Linked DNA regions of Homo sapiens: region 2 is linked to region 1. The links come from fine-mapping of genetic effects on gene expression. A gene starts in region 1. The other region holds a variant in brackets. All regions are shown on one strand. Distances are from middle to middle. Region 1 holds the start of TMEM102 (transmembrane protein 102). Region 2 overlaps ZBTB4 (zinc finger and BTB domain containing 4).

The links. PIP is the estimated chance that this variant, and not a neighbour inherited with it, causes the effect.
Region 2: its variant is fine-mapped to the expression of TMEM102 in whole blood (INTERVAL, PIP 0.99).

What each region holds. Positions count from the first base shown.
Region 1 is chr17:7,431,636-7,439,957 of GRCh38, forward strand. TMEM102 (transmembrane protein 102) reads left to right here and starts at 3,800. Exons shown (of 3, transcript NM_178518.3): 1 at 3,800-4,061; 2 at 4,218-4,450; 3 at 4,559-6,044. The coding sequence starts at 4,237. The coding sequence ends at 5,871. It overlaps SPEM3 (SPEM family member 3), which reads left to right. Exons shown (of 3, transcript NM_001364708.1): 3 at 1-1,185. The coding sequence ends at 1,127. It overlaps FGF11 (fibroblast growth factor 11), which reads left to right and starts at 7,877. Exons shown (of 5, transcript NM_004112.4): 1 at 7,877-8,178. The coding sequence starts at 7,986. RefSeq lists enhancers at 3,484-3,653, 4,705-5,614, 6,411-6,510, 6,525-7,433, 7,687-8,220 and silencers at 5,350-5,629, 6,601-6,700, 7,979-8,078.
Region 2 is chr17:7,469,007-7,477,328 of GRCh38, forward strand. All of the region lies in intron 1 of ZBTB4 (zinc finger and BTB domain containing 4), which reads right to left. Among named protein-coding and RNA genes, the nearest start is that of ZBTB4, 6.5 kb to the right of the region's middle. The variant C/CT (reference allele first, on the strand shown) is at 3,949.

The DNA of each region.
Region 1 (8,322 bases):
AAGATCTCTCCCAAGCAACTGACCACCAAAAGAACCTAGGCTCTTCTAAAGATTCTGGAGGTCACAAGAATACAGGCAATGTCCAAGATCCAGGAGTCTGTAGTACCGCAGGCCTTACTGAAGATTCTGGATCACAGAAGGGTCCGTATGTTCCCCAAGACTCTGAAGTCAATAAGAGCTCAGGAGTTATCCAGGAATCTTTTCTCCACAAGAGCCCAGGCCTTGTCCAAACCTCTGGCCTCCCAAAGTGCTCAGGCCTTACCCAAAACTCAGGAGACTACAAGAATCCAGGACTTATCCAAGATTGTGGTGGCCACAAAGTTAAAGGCCTTACTCAAGATTCCAACCTCCCAAGCCTTACCCAAGCCACTAAAGTTGAAAGAAGATTTAGCCTTCCCCAAGATGTTGGAGTTTACAGGAGCTCAGAACATAGCCAAGACTCTAATCTCCACAAGTGCCCAGGAATTAATCAAGATCCTGGCCCCCATAAAGACCCAGCCCTTGTCCAAGACTCTGGCCTCCCCAAGATTTCAGGCCTTACCCAGGAATCTGGCCCCTACAAGAGCTCATGCCTCATCCCAGATCCCAGCCTCTACAAGAACCCAAGCCCTGCCCTAGGTTCTGATTTTGTCCAGCTTTTGTCCCTGCTTCAGACCCCAAAGTCCACACTGTCCCTGATGAAGTCATCTGTGCCTGAGAAGGCTGCTCAGAAGGAGGACGCACAGCGGCACGTCCTCTGGGCTCGTGTCCAACTCAATGAGAACTCCTGCCCTTCCAAGGCCCAAGTGGTCTCCAATGACCTGCAGACCTTCTCAGAGGTACCTGTATTAATTGAGCTGCAGTCATCCTCCTGGCGGGCAGGCAGCCAGCACGGGGCGTACCGCCCTGTGGATACAGTTCCTTCAGGCTACCAGAACTATCGTCAGATGTCTATGCCTACCCATATCAACTGGAAGTCCCACTGCCCTGGACCAGGCACCCAGGCAGGGCATGTGGTTTTTGATGCCCGTCAGAGACGGTTGGCAGTGGGCAAGGACAAGTGTGAAGCTCTGTCTCCTAGGCGCCTTCATCAAGAGGCACCCAGCAACTCGGGGAAACCATCAAGGAGTGGGGATATCAGAATGTGATGAGAACCTTGGACAAAGAGGGGACAAAAGTGCATCAGGAATAAAGAGGCGAGAGAAATGTTCTGTGTTTGTTTGAGGACATCCACCCCAGCCCATCCCCGATACTGGCCACCCACAAAGCCACTGAGGACAGGTCCCTGTTTCTCCTCCATAGCTGCATAGCTAAGCCCATTATCCTCAAGGCCCTAGAGCTCCTCTGTCCCATACACTAGCCATTAGCCAAATGTGGCTATTAAAATGTATATTAGGCCTGGTGCAGTGGCTTACACCTGTAATCCCAGCACTTTGGGAGGCCGAGGTGGGCGGATCACCTGAGGTCAGGAGTTCGAGACCAGCCTGGCCAACATGGTGAAACCCCGTCTCTATAAAAATACAAAAATTAGCCGGGCATGGTGGTACACGCATGTAATCCCAGCTATTCGGGAGGCTGAGGCAGGGAGAATCACTTGAACCTGGGAGGCGGAAGTTGTGGTGAGCCGAGATCGCACCATTGCACTCCAGCCTCGGTGACACAGCAAGACTCTGTCTCAAAAAAAAAAAAAAAAAAAAAAGTAGATGTTACTGCGGAACACATTTTTAAATTTTGTTTAATTTTAATTTACATTTTCTTTTTTTCTTTTTCTTTTTTTCTTTTTTTTGAGACAGAGTCTCGCTCTGTCACCCAGGCTGGAGTGCAATGGCGCGATCTCGGCTCACTGCAACCTCTGCCTCCCAGGTTCAAGCAAGCGATTCTCCTGCCTCAGCCTCCTGAGTAGCTGGGATTACATGCGTGCACCACCACGCCCAGCTAATTTTTGTCTTTTTAGTAGAGATGGGGTTTCACCATGTTGGCCAGGCTAGTCTCGAACTCCTGACCTCAAGTGATCCACCCGCCTCGGCCTCCCAAAGTGTTGGGATTACAGGCGTGAGCCAGGGCGCCTGGCCACATTATCTACATTTCAAGTGCTCAACAGCCACAGGTGGCTGCTGGTGGCTACTGTATCAGACAGGACCAACTCAGGACATTGCTATCGTCACAGAAAATTATATTGGAGAGCCATGCTTTAGAGTTTAGAGGAACTATTCCTTGTCACCCATTCTTAACATCTTCAAAGCTTCCACAGAGTCCAGAGAACTTAGTTCTTTTTAGAGTGCCTCGGAAGCCACCCTCTGGGAAGGAGGTGAGATGCAGGGATGTCTGATGCCTGGTTACTCCAGACTGTGAGAAACAGCCCAGTCTCCAGTTCTCCTGATCTGGCCTCTTGGGTCACAGCCAGATGTGTGTGTACGGGAACCTACTTGCGCAGTTCTGGGCTGCTTTGGTGCTCTCGCTTCTCCCAGGGACCCCAGCTCTGGTTGCTGAAGGAGAAAACTCTCTGTCAGTGACGAGGAACCCCTGAGTCCTGGGCTTGCCAAATTGATCTCTACAGTTGGGGAGTCTCTTCTTTTACAGGCCTCTAATTTTCCTAGATGTCCTCCTTAATTATCTTATCCATGGACTTAGGCCTATCCCGTCCTGGAGACAGACCAAGGGCAGAAGGAATGTAAGAAGTCGTGGCCCAGGCCGGGTGCAGTGGCGCGTGCCTATAATCCCAACACTTTGGGAGGCCGAGGTGGGAGGATCACCTGAGGTCAGGAGTTCAAGACCAGCCTGGCCAACATGGTGAAACCCTGTCTCTACTAAAAATACAAAAAATTAGCCAGGTATGGTGGCAGGCGCCGTAATCCCAGCTTCTCGGGAGGCTGAGGCAGGAGAACTGCTTGAACCCGGGAGGTGGAGGTTGCAGTGAGCGGAGATTGCGCCACAGCACTCCAGTCTGGGCAACAGTGCGAGACTCAGTCTCAAAAACAAAACAAAACAAAACAAAAATTTGAGATCCCAAAGTGTTTTCCCTGCCACGACTCAGGTAGCAGTGAGCTGAGGTGGGCATCACTAACATGTATGTCTCTCCTATGAGTCAAACGTCCATTTCTGGGTCACCATCTGTGTGCTCCTGCCTAACACTACCACTTTTGGGATTCCAAGATGCACCCCCCCCACCCCACCCAGGCAGGGGTCCCTATCTCTCCCCAGGCCCTAGGGTGGAGTTTCGCTCTTATCACCCAGGCTGGAGTGCAATGGCACAATCTCAGCTCACTGCACCCTTTCCCTCCTAGGTTCAAGTGATTCTCCTGCCTCAGCCTCCTAAGTAGCTGGGATTACAGGCGTCTGCCACCACGCCCGGCTAATTTTTGTATTTTTAGTAGAGACAGGGTTTCGCAATGTTGGCCAGGCTGGCCTTGAACTCCTGACCTCAGGTGATTCACCCGCCTCAGTCTCCCAAAGTGCTGGGGTTACAGGCGGGAGCCACCGCGCCCGGCCCATCCCTCATTATTTTTTGCGACTCAGAGCCATCCTATTACCCCTCTCAAACCCCAAGGAATGTTTGAGTGGGGTTGATATGGGTGTGAAAAGACACAGAATAATCTGTCTCCAGAGGAACTACAACTTCCATCAGGCACTACTTCAGCGGAACAGGAAAGGATGTGGGGGCGTGGCTACCACGCCCTAGTAGAGCGGGAAACTACAACTCCCAGGATAACGCGGGATTTCAGCAGGGCCAAAAGAGTGATTGAGCTCTGACTGGCGACCCGACCCGGCGGAAACCACCTCGACAGCCTCCAGAAAGGGGCGTGGCTGAAAATGTAGGGGCGTGGCCACGTGGGCATCAGGAAGAAGTAACCTGTTGAATCTATTTCTGCTCCCCACCCTTACTGCTTCCCATAAGGGGGAAGCCGCAGACTAATAAGCCTCTTCCAAAAAAGAGGTAAAGGGAGGTAGACAAGGGGCGGCAGCGGAGGCTGGCTACTGCATTCCGTAGGAGGAGCCAACAGTTACTTTTTACCTGCTGAGTCCGGTGAACCAGTTCATGGGGGCGGGGACCTGCCTATGAGAAAAGGGCCAGGATAGAAGAGGTATTTATTTGTTCATTTTGAGGACTAAATTTAGAACCCATCATCTACAGACCCATTTGTAGGTTGTGTCTGGGGCACTCGCTCGGCCTCAGGAAGAGGGAAGAACGGGGACGACTTTGTGGCAGCAAAGCCACCTCCCTTCCGTGTTTTCCGCAGCCCAAAGCGATAGAACCGCATGGCTTCCGCAGTCTGGGGGAGTGCCCCCTGGTGGGGCCCGCCGCCCCCGGCCCCAGCTCGGCCGCTCACGGACATCGACTTCTGCTCCGGGGCGCAGCTGCAGGAATTGACCCAGCTGATCCAGGAGCTGGGTGTGCAGGAGAGCTGGAGTGACGGGCCCAAGCCGGGAGCCGATCTCCTCCGGGCCAAGGACTTTGTCTTCTCTTTGCTTGGTAAGTAACCCTACTTGCCTTTGGGAACTCACAGCTCTCAGCCTCACCACGCCCCCGCCCCCGCCCCGGCTTTGGGCGACGCCCTCACGATCCGTTCCCTTTTTTTAGGTCTAGTTCACCGCCGGGACCCTCGCTTTCCTCCCCAGGCAGAGCTCTTGCTGCTTCGTGGTGGGATTCGCGAGGGCTCCCTGGATCTGGGGCATGCACCCCTGGGTCCCTACGCCCGGGGACCTCACTACGATGCCGGCTTCACACTCCTAGTGCCCATGTTTTCACTGGACGGCACTGAACTGCAACTGGACCTGGAATCCTGTTACGCACAGGTCTGCCTCCCAGAGATGGTGTGCGGAACCCCCATCCGGGAGATGTGGCAGGATTGCTTAGGACCCCCAGTCCCAGGAGCACGTGATTCGATCCACCGAACGGAGAGCGAAGAAAGTTCCAAGGACTGGCAAAGCTCTGTAGACCAGCCGCACAGCTACGTCACTGAGCACGAGGCGCCGGTGTCTTTGGAAAAATCGCCTAGTGACGTTTCAGCGTCCGAGTCGCCTCAGCATGACGTCGTCGACCTTGGCTCTACCGCACCTTTGAAAACAATGAGTAGTGACGTCACCAAGGCAGCCGTCGAAAGCCCAGTCCCAAAGCCGTCGGAGGCTCGGGAAGCGTGGCCCACATTATGTTCCGCCCAGGTGGCTGCCTGGTTCTTTGCTACGCTGGCGGCGGTCGCCGAGTCTCTGATCCCTGTCCCGGGTGCTCCGCGTCTGGTGCACGCAGCTCGCCACGCGGGTTTCACCACCGTCCTCCTGGCTACCCCTGAGCCCCCTCGCCGCCTCCTGCTCTTCGACCTGATCCCAGTGGTGTCCGTGGCGGGCTGGCCCGAGGGGGCTCGGAGCCACTCGTGGGCCGGTCCGCTGGCCTCTGAGTCGGCTTCCTTCTACCTGGTGCCCGGTGGCGGCACCGAGCGGCCGTGCGCCTCCGCCTGGCAGCTCTGTTTTGCCCGCCAGGAGCTGGCGCTCAAAGCGCGCATACCAGCGCCGCTGCTGCAGGCGCACGCGGCGGCCCAGGCGCTACTGCGCCCGCTGGTGGCCGGGACCCGGGCGGCGGCGCCCTACCTCCTGCGGACGCTGCTGTACTGGGCGTGCGAGCGGCTGCCTGCGCTCTACCTGGCGCGGCCAGAAAATGCGGGCGCCTGCTGCCTCGGGCTGCTAGACGAGCTCGGCCGAGTGCTCGAGGCCGGGACGTTGCCTCACTATTTTCTGAACGGCCGACAGCTCCGTACGGGGGACGACTCCGCTGCGCTGCTCGGAGAATTGGCCCGGCTCCGCGGGGACCCGGCCCGGGCCCTCCGTGCCGCGGTGGAGGAGGCCAAAGTGGCCCGCAAGGGGGGCGGTTTGGCGGGCGTGGGGGGCGGGGCCCATTAAAGACGCTGTTCCTACCAGTGGAAAGTGCCTCTGTGGGCGAGCGGGACGTGGGGGGCCCTGCTCGCCCCTCGCCAGGGGGACTGACTGTGTGCCCTGGGCCTGAAGCCCCCCTTCTGGAAGACCTCCCTGTTGGTTCCTCCTCTACGCCCACCCGCCTGCCCCCGCACAAGTTGCCCCATTCCAGCCTCGCTATTCTCCACATCTGTGGCCAGCACTCCGCCCAGGGGCAGCTTCCAGAAACCGTCTGTCCCCAGTTCTTTTGGTCATTTCTCTTAAGGGCCAATAGAAATGGGAGAAACATATTTGCTGACCAAACGCGAAAAGGAGTTATGGAGACCAGGGTCTGATCAATTTGGCTCACACAACGGCAGAGATATGAAGGAGGCCGGATTTCGCCCAAGGCTGGATCTCACCACCCCCCATCCTCCATCTCTCCAGTTCTTCCCCCACTTTACTCGTGCGGTTCTTTCTTCACTAACATCCCGGCCAGTAGGGTCTCTCTCCCTTCTCCCAGCGTCCGCCATTCCATCTCCCTTAGGCCCAACCTCTCCTTCCTACCCAGGGGTGCGTTCAGGAGGCCTTCCTGTCCCTCCTCCTCTGAAGGCTGAGACGTGCGGCCTTGCCTCGGCTTTGCCTGCTTGTAAGACACAGTCCGCACTCTCTACCTCCAAGGAACCCCGGGGTTCCTCCTGCCCGGCTTCACCCTCCTATTTCCCAGCGTCTCCGCCCCCTGCCCCGCCCCCGGGCCGGCTCTCCGAGGAGGGGGAACTGCTGTCGCCGCCGCCGCCGCCGCCTCAGCTTCCCACAGCCGCTGCCGCTGCCGCCGCTCTGCCTGGTCCAGCCACCGGCCCAGTGCTCTGACTTCGCCGGACCGGGGAGCTCTGCAGAGACACCCTCACTCCTTCCCGAGGGTCCGGGACGCCTAGCCGGGCGTGGGGGGAAGCTCCGTTTGCGGGGGACAGGGAGGGAGGAGCCTGGAGCCGAAGCCAGCGCCACCCGTCGCCGGATCAACAGGACAGGACAGGTTGAGGGGCGTCGGGAAAAGGAAGAGGGGGTGCTATAGGCAATCCCGGGGAGGACGAGGAAGCCCTGTAGCAGGAAGCTGTGATCCGCTCTGACTTGTAGGGGGCCTGTTCACATCTGGGGACTGGTGACAACGTGGGTGCACTCCTCTCTTGGGGGGCTGGTTAGATTGGAGGGCGTGGGATCTAAACAGCACCAGCTGTCCCCAAGAAAATTTAAGGGGCAGCCAGGGGAGAAAAAAACAAAAACAAAAACAAACACGGATGCTCCTCATTTTGAGGTGGCGGAAGGCCCTCCAGTCAACTACCTGGTGTATCCACTAGGAAGGGTGGATTTGGAGGTGACTTCAAAAGGAGCGGAGGGTGTGAAGGTGAAGAAAGGGTCTTGGCCGCTAGAATTCTATGCTACTAGACATGGGGGGGACTTGGTGAAAAAGGTATTATCCAGCCAGAGGGTCTGGGAGCCCTGTCTTACTGAACCTGGGCAACCTGGATATTCTGAGACATATTTTGGGGGGATTTCAGTGAAAAAAGTGGGGGATCCCCTCCATTTAGAGTGTAGCAAAGGAAAAAACACCAAGGTTGGGTTCCTTCCTGACATTGGCAGTGCCCCAGTAGGGGTGGGATGAGCGAATATTCCCAAAGCTAAAGTCCCACACCCTGTAGATTACAAGAGTGGATTTGGCAGGAGTGTGCCCCAAAATACAGTGGAAAGGTGCCTGAAGATATTTAAACCACGTCTTGGAAATTTAGTGGGTCTTGGCTTTGGGATAGGTGAAGTGAGGACAGACACTGGAGAGGAGGGAAAGGGGACGTTTTCAATAGGAGGCAAAACTCGAGGGTGGGATCCACTGAGGAGTACATAGGCTGCTGGATCTGGTGGAGCCAGCACTGGGCCCACGGGTGGTAACTGGCTGCTGTGGAGGGGGGTACGTGAGGGGGGGGGTCTGGGGCTTATCCTCAGGTCCTGTGGGTGGGGCAGCGAGTCGGGGCCTGAGCGTCAAGAGCATGCCCTAGTGAGCGGGCTCCTCTGGGGGAGCCCAGCGCGCTCCGGGCGCCTGCCGGTTTGGGGGTGTCTCCTCCCGGGGCGCTATGGCGGCGCTGGCCAGTAGCCTGATCCGGCAGAAGCGGGAGGTCCGCGAGCCCGGGGGCAGCCGGCCGGTGTCGGCGCAGCGGCGCGTGTGTCCCCGCGGCACCAAGTCCCTTTGCCAGAAGCAGCTCCTCATCCTGCTGTCCAAGGTGCGACTGTGCGGGGGGCGGCCCGCGCGGCCGGACCGCGGCCCGGGTGAGTGCGGCTGGGGCGGGGTCTCCCGGCCAGAGGTTTCTCTGCCTGGGAGATTGAGGCCAGGGACTCTGAAGAATAGGGCCCGGCTGAGGGGCTCCCCGAAAGTGGAAGGGGGTGGGCCAGGACGACAAAGTCCCTGCCAGA
Region 2 (8,322 bases), 37 kb after region 1:
GGGGCCTCACTGCATTCACAGGCTGATGCCCAGGCCTCCTACTCGCCTCCATGAGAACCACTGGCTCACCGGGACCCCAAGAGTCAGTGTTTTATTTGGATTACCTCATTTGTTCCTTATCACTACCCTGAAAGGTAGCAGTTAGCTTTCCCTCCTTTTAAATTTTATTTATTTGTTTTGAGATGGAGTCTCGCTCTGCGCCCAGACTGGAATGCAGTGGTGCAATCTCAGCTCACTGCAACCCCCGCCTCCTAGGTTCAAGCGATTCTCCAGCCTCAGCTTCTTGAGTAGCTGGGATTACAGGCGTCCGCCGCCATGCCTGGCTAATTTTTTGTATTTTTAGTAGAGACAGGGTTTCACCGTGTTAGCCAGGGTAATCTTGATCTCCTGACCTTGTGACCTGCCTACCTAGGCCTCCCAAAGTGCTGGGATTATGGGCGTGAGCCTCCATGCCTGGCCACTTTCCCTCTTTAAGGCCGGGCACGGTGGCTCATGCCCGTAATCCCAGCACTTTGGGAGGCCAAGGCGGGCGGATCATCTGAGGTCAGGAGTTCTAGACCAGCCTGGCCAATGTGGCGATCTCTACTAAAAATAATAATAAAAAAAAAATTAGCCAGGCATGGTGGTGGGTGTCTGTAATCCCAGATACTTGGGAGGCTGAGGTAGGAGAATTGCTGGAACCCAGGAAGTAGAGGCTGCAGTGAGCCGAGATCGCGCTGGATGGAGATCAATCCAGGCTGGGTGACAGAGTGAGACTCTGTCTCAAAAAATAAAAATAAAAATAAATAAAAAATAGGCCGGGCACGGTGGCTCACACCTGTAATCCTAGCAGTTTGGGAGGCAGAGGCGGGTGGATCGCGAGGTCAAGAGATTGAGACCATCCTGAAAAACATGGTGAAACCCTCTCTCTACTGAAAATACAAAAATTAGCCGGACGTGGTGGCAGGCACCTGTAGTCCCAGCTACTCGGTAGGCTGGGGCAGGAGAATCACTTGAATCCGGGAGGCGGAGGTTGCAGTGAGCCGAGATTGCGTCACTGCACTCCAGCCTGGTGACAGAACGAGACTCTGTCTCAAAAAATAAATAAATAAATAAAATGACAGACCATGGGCTGGGTGCAGTGGCTCACACTTGTAATCCCAGCACTTTGGAAGGCTGAGGCAGGTGGATCCCTTGAGCTCAGGAGTTCGAGACCAGCCTGGGCAAGATGGAGAAACCTGGTCTCTACAAAAAATACAAAAATTAGCCAGGTGTGGTGGTGTGCACCTATAGTTCCAGCTACTCAGGAGGCTGAGGTGGGAGCATCCCTTAAGCCCAGGAGTTCAAGGCTGCAGTGAGTTATGATTATGCCACTGTACTCCAGCCTGAGTGACAGAACAAGACCCTGCCTCAAAAAAATAAAATAGGCTGGGCATGGTGGCTCATGCCTGTAATCCCAGCACTTTGGGAGGCCGAGGTGGATGGATCACCTGAAGTTCAGGAGCTCGAGACCAGCCTGGCCAACATGGTGAAACACCGTCTCTACTTAAAATATAAAAAATTAGCAGGGCATGGAGGTGGGCACCTATAATCCCAGCTACTCAGGAGGCTGAGGCAGGAGAATCACTTGAACCCAGGAGGCAAAGGTTGCAGTGAGCCGAGATTGCACCATTGCACTCCAGCTTGGGCAACAAGAATGAAACTTCGTCTCAAAATAAATAAATAAAATGTCAGATTATGGCTTATCAATGCTAGGTAGCTGGCCCAAGGACGTATGACCAGCTAGTAGCAGGGCTGGGATCTGATCCCAGGAAGTTTGGCTCCAAAGCCTGTGTTCCTGATGACTTCACCATATATTAACGAAGGACGTGTTTATGGCACCCACTAGGGCACAAATATCCTACCTGGGTGCCTTTCTGAAAATTAGAAGCAAGGTTCTTTCCTCCAGGAGGTAGCAGCCCTGTGTAGGTGGGCAAAGTCAAGCTTTGCCTCCAGTCCCCATTCACCCCACTGGCTGGGCCTGCCAACCTGCACAACCATATGTGGTGGGCTATGCATGTGTGACCGTGTGCTGACTACCACAGTACTTGGACGAGACCTGTCAGGGCTTCTTAGAACTAGAGACACCCAATGCTGGACTGGCCCTTAAGATCACACACAATCATTGTCATCATGGTCTCTGTAGCTGCCATTTATGAAAAAAATTTTTTTTTTTTGAGACAGGGTCTCATTCTGTTGCCCAAGCTGGAGTGCAGTGGTGTGAACATTGCTCACTGCAGCCTGGACCTCCTGGAATCAAATGATCCTCCTGCCTCAGCCTCCGGAGTATCTGGGACCATAGGCTTATGTCACAATGCCTGGCTAATTTATTTATTTACTTTTGTAGAGATGGGGTCTTGCCACGTTGCCCAGGCTTGAAATACTTATGATGTGCAAAGTATAATGCTAAGCATTTTATCTGTATCATCTCATTTCAACACTCAAAATGGCCAGTGAGACAACAGGCTTAGAGAAATCAAATACTCTAAACTCCTCCCTTTCAGGTAGAAGGTAGGTAGTGATGGGGTTATTTGCCTCTGGTTTTGTTGCTAGCCAACCCAGCGTTTGGACGCAGCTTGAGTTAAACTGCCCTATCCTGGCTACTGCCCTGCAAGGCCTTATAGGAAGTGGAAAAGACTAGCTATGTGACCCCAGGCAGGTTACTTAACCTCTCTGTATCTGTTTCTTTGTCCATACGGTGGGGACAATTAATAGTTCCTACCTTGTGGGGTTGTTGTAAAGATTAAATGAGCTAACAACTGGCAATATTTAGTTTGTAGAACTCAGTCCTGGAAAATGGTGGGGAGAAGTAGTGAAGAAAAAAAGGCACAAATTGGGCTTCCTGGTAGGTTTGGTGGCTCTGTGGTTTTAGAGTTTTTTATTTGTTTGTTCTTACCATTTCTCTACTCTTCAGTGCCTGTGTGACCTCAGATGTGCCACTGAGGTGGGGATCTGAGCATGGACACCAGAGACGCCCTACATCTTGCGGTTCCCTCTGGCTGGAATGTTCTTTCCTCCAGATAGCCTCATGCAGTGAACCCCAACTTCCTTTAAGCCTTGACTTAGAAGCCACCTTCCCCTGAGGCCTTCCCTGGCCACTCCCCACCTTCTAAAACTTCCTATCTCCCGACCCTACTTTATTTTGCTCCTTGGCACTTAGTAACACTTTTTCTTTTTTTTTTTTGAGACACAGTCCAGCTCTGTCGCCCAGGCTGGAGTGCAGTGGTGCGATCTGGGCTCACTGCAACCTCCGCCTCCTGGGTTCAAGCGATTCTCCTGCCTCTGCCTCCCGAGTAGCTGGGATTACAGGCGCCTGCCACCACGTCCGGCTAATTTTTGTATTTTTAGTAGAGACGAGGTTTCACCATCTTGGCCAGGCTGTTCTTGAAATCCCAACCTCGTGATCCACCTGCCTTGGCCTCCCAAAGGGCTGGGATTACAGGCATGAGCCACCGCGCCCAGCCTGGCTAATTTTTTTGTATTTTTAGTAGAGGTGGGGTTTCACCATGCTGGCAAGGCTGGTTTTGAACTCCTGACCTTAAGTGATCTGCCCGCCTCTGCCTCTCCAAGTGCCAGGATTATAGGAGTGAGCCACTGCACCTGGCCATTCTTTTTTTTTTTTTTTTTTTTTTTTTGAGATGAGGTCTCACTCCGTTGCCCAGGTTGGAGTGCAGTGGCACAATCATGGTTCATTGCAGCCTCAACCTCCCAGGCTCTCATGACCTCCCACCTCAGCGTCCCTAGTAGCTGGCACCACAGGTGCACACCACAATGCCCAGTTAATTTATTTTTTATTTTTAGTAGAGATTGGATCTCTCTATGTTGGCCAGGCTGGTCTCGAACTCCTGGGCTCAAGTGATCCTTCTGCCTCGGCCTCCCAAAGTGCTGGGATGACATGCATGAGCCACTGAAACTGGCCCAACTGCTTCT[C/CT]TTTTTTTTTTGCGGCGGGGGACAGAGTCTAGCTCTGTCGCCCAGGCTGGAGTGCAGTGGCACAATCTTGGCTCACTGCAACCTCCGCCTCCCGGGTTCAAGAGATTCTCCTGCCTCAACCTCACGAGTCACTGGGACTATAGGCGCGCGCCACCATTTTTTTTTTTTTTTTTTTTGAGACTGAGTCTCGCTCTGTCGCCCAGGCTGGAGTGCAGTGGTGCGATCTTGGCTCACTGCAAGCTCCGCCTCCCGGGTTCACGCCATTCTCCTGCCTCAGCCTCCGGAGTAGCTGGGACTACAGGCACCCACCACCACTCCCGGCTAATTTTTTTTTGTATTTTTAGTAGAGACGGGGTTTCACCATGTTAGCCAGGATGGTCTCCATCTCCTGACCTTGTGATCTGCCCACTTCGGCATCCCAAAGTGCAGGGATTACAGGCATGAGCCACCGCGCCTGGCCAGGCCCGGATAATTTTTGTATTTTTAGTAGAGATGGGGTTTCACCATGTCGGCCTGGCTGGTCTTAAACTCCTGACCTCAGGTGATCTGCCCGCCTCAGCCTCCCAAAGTGCTGGGATTACAGAGCCTGGTCAATTATTTATCTTTTTTTGAGACAGGATCTTGCTCTGTTGCCCAGGCTGCAGTACAATGGTGAGATTGAGGCTCACTGCAGCCTTAACCTCCTGGGCTCAAATGATCCTCTCACCTGTCAGCCTTCTGAGTAGCTGGGACTACAGGTACCTGCCACCATGCCCAGATAATTTTTGTATTTTTTGTAGAGATGAGGTTTCACCATGTTCCCCAGGGCTGGTATTGAAATCCTGGTCTCAAGCAATCCGCCCAGCTCAGCATCCCAAAGTGCTGGGATCATAGTGGAAAGCCACTGCGCCCAGCTCCTATTTCTTATTTATCTCTGGAATGTAAGCTCCAAGGGGTAAAAGGTAGGAATGTTTTTGGTTTTGTTTTGTTTTTGAGATGGATGGCATCTTGCTCTGTTGCCCAGGCTGGAGTGCAGTGGCATGATCTCTCTCGGCTCACTGCAACCTCTGCCTCCTGGGTTCAAGCAATTTTCCTGCCTCAGCCTCCCAAAAACCTGGAACTACAGGCATATGCCACCACACCCGGCTAATTTTTATATTTTTAGTAGAGACAGGGTTTCACCATGTTGACCAGGCTGGTCTCGAACTCCTGACCTCAGGTGATCCACCCGCCTTGGCCTCCCTCCCAAAGCGCTGGAATTACAGGCATGAGCCACCATGGCCAGACTTTTTTTTTTTTTGACATGAGGTCTTGCTTTGTCACCCAGGCTGTAGTGCAGTGGTGTTACCACAGCTCCCTGCAGCCTTGACCTCCCCTAGGCTCAGGTGATTCTCTCATTACAGCCTCCCAAGTAGCTGGGACTACGGGCATATGCCACCACGCCCAGCGAATTTTTTGTATTTTTAGTAGAGATAGGGCTTCACCATGTTGCCCAGGTTGGTCTCGAACTCCTGGGATCAAGCAATTCACCGCCTTGGACACCCAAAGTGTTGGAATTACAGGTGTGAGCCACAGCGCCCGGCCAAGGGTAGGGAATTTTGTCTGCTTTGTTCATTGCCGTATCTGAAGTCGTTAGAATAGGGCCTAGCACGTAATAGGTGGTAAAAACAAAACAAAAAAACTGGTAAATGAATGAACCTGTCCTCAAAGTCCATCCTCCAGGATGGAAGCCATCGTCCACGCTGGACTGAGTTGGCCTGGAGATAGGGATGACAATTATAACTTGACCACTTCTGGGCCAGGCACAGTGGCGCACACCTGTAATCCCAGCACTTTGGGAGGCTGAGGCGGGCAGATCACTTGAGGTCAGGAGTTCCAGACCAGCCTGGCCAACATGATGAAACCCCATCTGTACTAAAAATACAAAAATTAGCTGGGTGTGGTGGTGCACGCTTGTAACCCCAGCTACTCAGGTGGCTGAGGCAGGAGAATTGCTTGAACCGGGGAGGTGGCGGTTGCAGCGAGCAGAGATTGCGCCACTGCATTCCAGCCTGGGCGACAGAGTGAGACTCTGCCTCAAAAAAAAAAAAAAAAAAAAAAAAGGCCAGGTATGGCCAACTCACGCCTGTAATCCCAGCACTTTGGGAGGCCAAGGCAGGTGGATCACCTGAGGTCAGGGATTGACCACCTGCCTAGCCAACATGGTGAGACCAGCCTGGCCAACATGGTGAAACTTGGTCTCTACTGAAAATAAAAAATTAGCTGGGCGTAGTGGCGGGCGCCTGTAACCCCAGCTACCCGGGAGGCTGAGGCAGGAGAATCACCTGAACCCGGAAGGCGGAGGTTGCAGTGAGCCAAGATCATGCCATTGCATTCCAGCCTGGGTAACAAGAGAGAAATTCCGTCTCAAAAAAAAATTAAAAGAAACCATAAATAAGTTGACCACTCTGGAGTCCTCACAATTTGCCTCATACTCTTCTTGGGGCCTCACACACATTACCTCATTTAATGATATTCTCAGTACAGCCACCCACAATAGGTTTTATATTATCCTGTTGCCCAGGCTGGAGCGCAGTGGCGTGATCTCGGCTCACTGCAACCTCCGTCTCCTGGGTTCAAGCAATTCTCCTGCCTCAGCCTCCAGAGTAGCTGGGATTCCACGCCCAGCTAGTTTTTTTATTTTTAGTAGAGACAGGGTTTCTCCATGTTGGCCAGGCTGGTCTTGAACTCCTGACCTCAGGTGATCCACCTGCCTTGGCTTCCCAAAGTTCTGGGATTACAGGCATGGGCCACTGCGCCCGGCCATATTATTCTAATTTTACAGAAGAGGAAACCGAGGCTCAGAGAGGGATATACCTTACTCGAGGTCGCACAGCTTGTAAGCAGCAGTCAAGATTCGAATCCAGGCCCAGCTGACCCCAGATGCTCAATCTTTCCCTCTGCCATACTGCTAGACCTGGCCCTGAAGAGGCCTATGGCCCGCCAGCTGGTTACATAAACCACCGCACAAGGTCTCACGTGCTAAGTGCTAAATGTGTCATGTCTGACTCCACCCTTTCCCTCACTTCCACATCCAGCAGTCATCAAGTGTGGCTGAAATCGCCGCCGAGCTTGGGAATGGCTCTGGAAATCTTCCCTTCGATAGCTCAGGTCCTTGTTAACACTCACGTGGTCCAAGGTTATGGCCTCCCAGCTATCCCCTGGCCTCCAGGCTTACCTTCCTCCATCCAGCCCTCCTCCCCCTGAGGGTCAACGTCCCTAACCACAGTTCAGGACTATCACTCCTGGGCTCAAAACCTCCACTGGTCCCCACTGACTCTAGAAGAAAGTTCAAATTCTTCTACCAGGCAGTCAAGGGCTCTGGTCTAGCTCCAATCTTCCTTTTTAATCTTGCCTTGTGTTATCCTCTTCAAACACACAGTACTCAGCGTGAGCCAGGCGTGATGGCAGATACCCATAGTCCCAGCTACTCAGGAGGCTGCAGCTAGAGGATTGCTTGAGCCCAGGAGTTTGAGTCCAGCCTGGGCAATATATTGAGACCCAGTTTCTAAACAAATGAACAAAACCCCAGACACCCAGTGTGCTCTCCAGCTTCTACATGACCCACACCTTCATGCCTTTGCCTGTGCTGGCTTGTTCTGCCAGAAATGCTCTTTCCCCAAGCTTGTCAAAATCCCTCCAAAACGTTAAGATCTGACTCCAAGGCCACCTCCTTCTTGGCCCTCCCTGATCCACAGGATGAGAACGATCATTCCTTCCTCTGACTCATCAACCTTTTGTGCTCCTATGGCCAGCATCCACCTTACACAGCAGCAGAGACTCAGGTTCTCATGCCCTCAGCTGGGGATCCCTGAGCATCCGGGTCTTCTGAAATGGACTGCTGCAAATGCTAAGTTCTGCAGCAACTGGGGAGAAGAGTGTTGGAGGGAGTTGCACAGAAAGGACCATCCACTGAATGTTCCAGAAGGCAGCAGAGTACAGTAGTTAAGAGCACAAGATCTTCAACCTGATTGCCCGGGTTCAAATACAGCTTCACCTCTTACTAGCTAAGTGACTTGGGGCAGATTACTTAACTTCTCTGGACCTCAGCTGCCTCACTTGAAAAAGGGAGGTAGAGTGCCTACTTCAGGGTGTTGTTCTGAGGACAGAGTGGCCACATATAAGTGCCCTGAGGACAGGCTGGTGCACGGTCAGTGCTAAGCAAGTGTGTGCTGCCATTATTATCAGCGAAGCCCCAAGAAGGGAATTCCCAGTCCTGGGGGAGGGCTGACAGGGGCTGGCATAGGCACAGCCCCCAGACTATAGCCACTTTCCGGGTCCGTTTCCCATGTGCTTTTGGAAGATACGCAGGGCAGACAATCAGCCCCATTCTGCAGATGAGGAACTGAGCTTCCT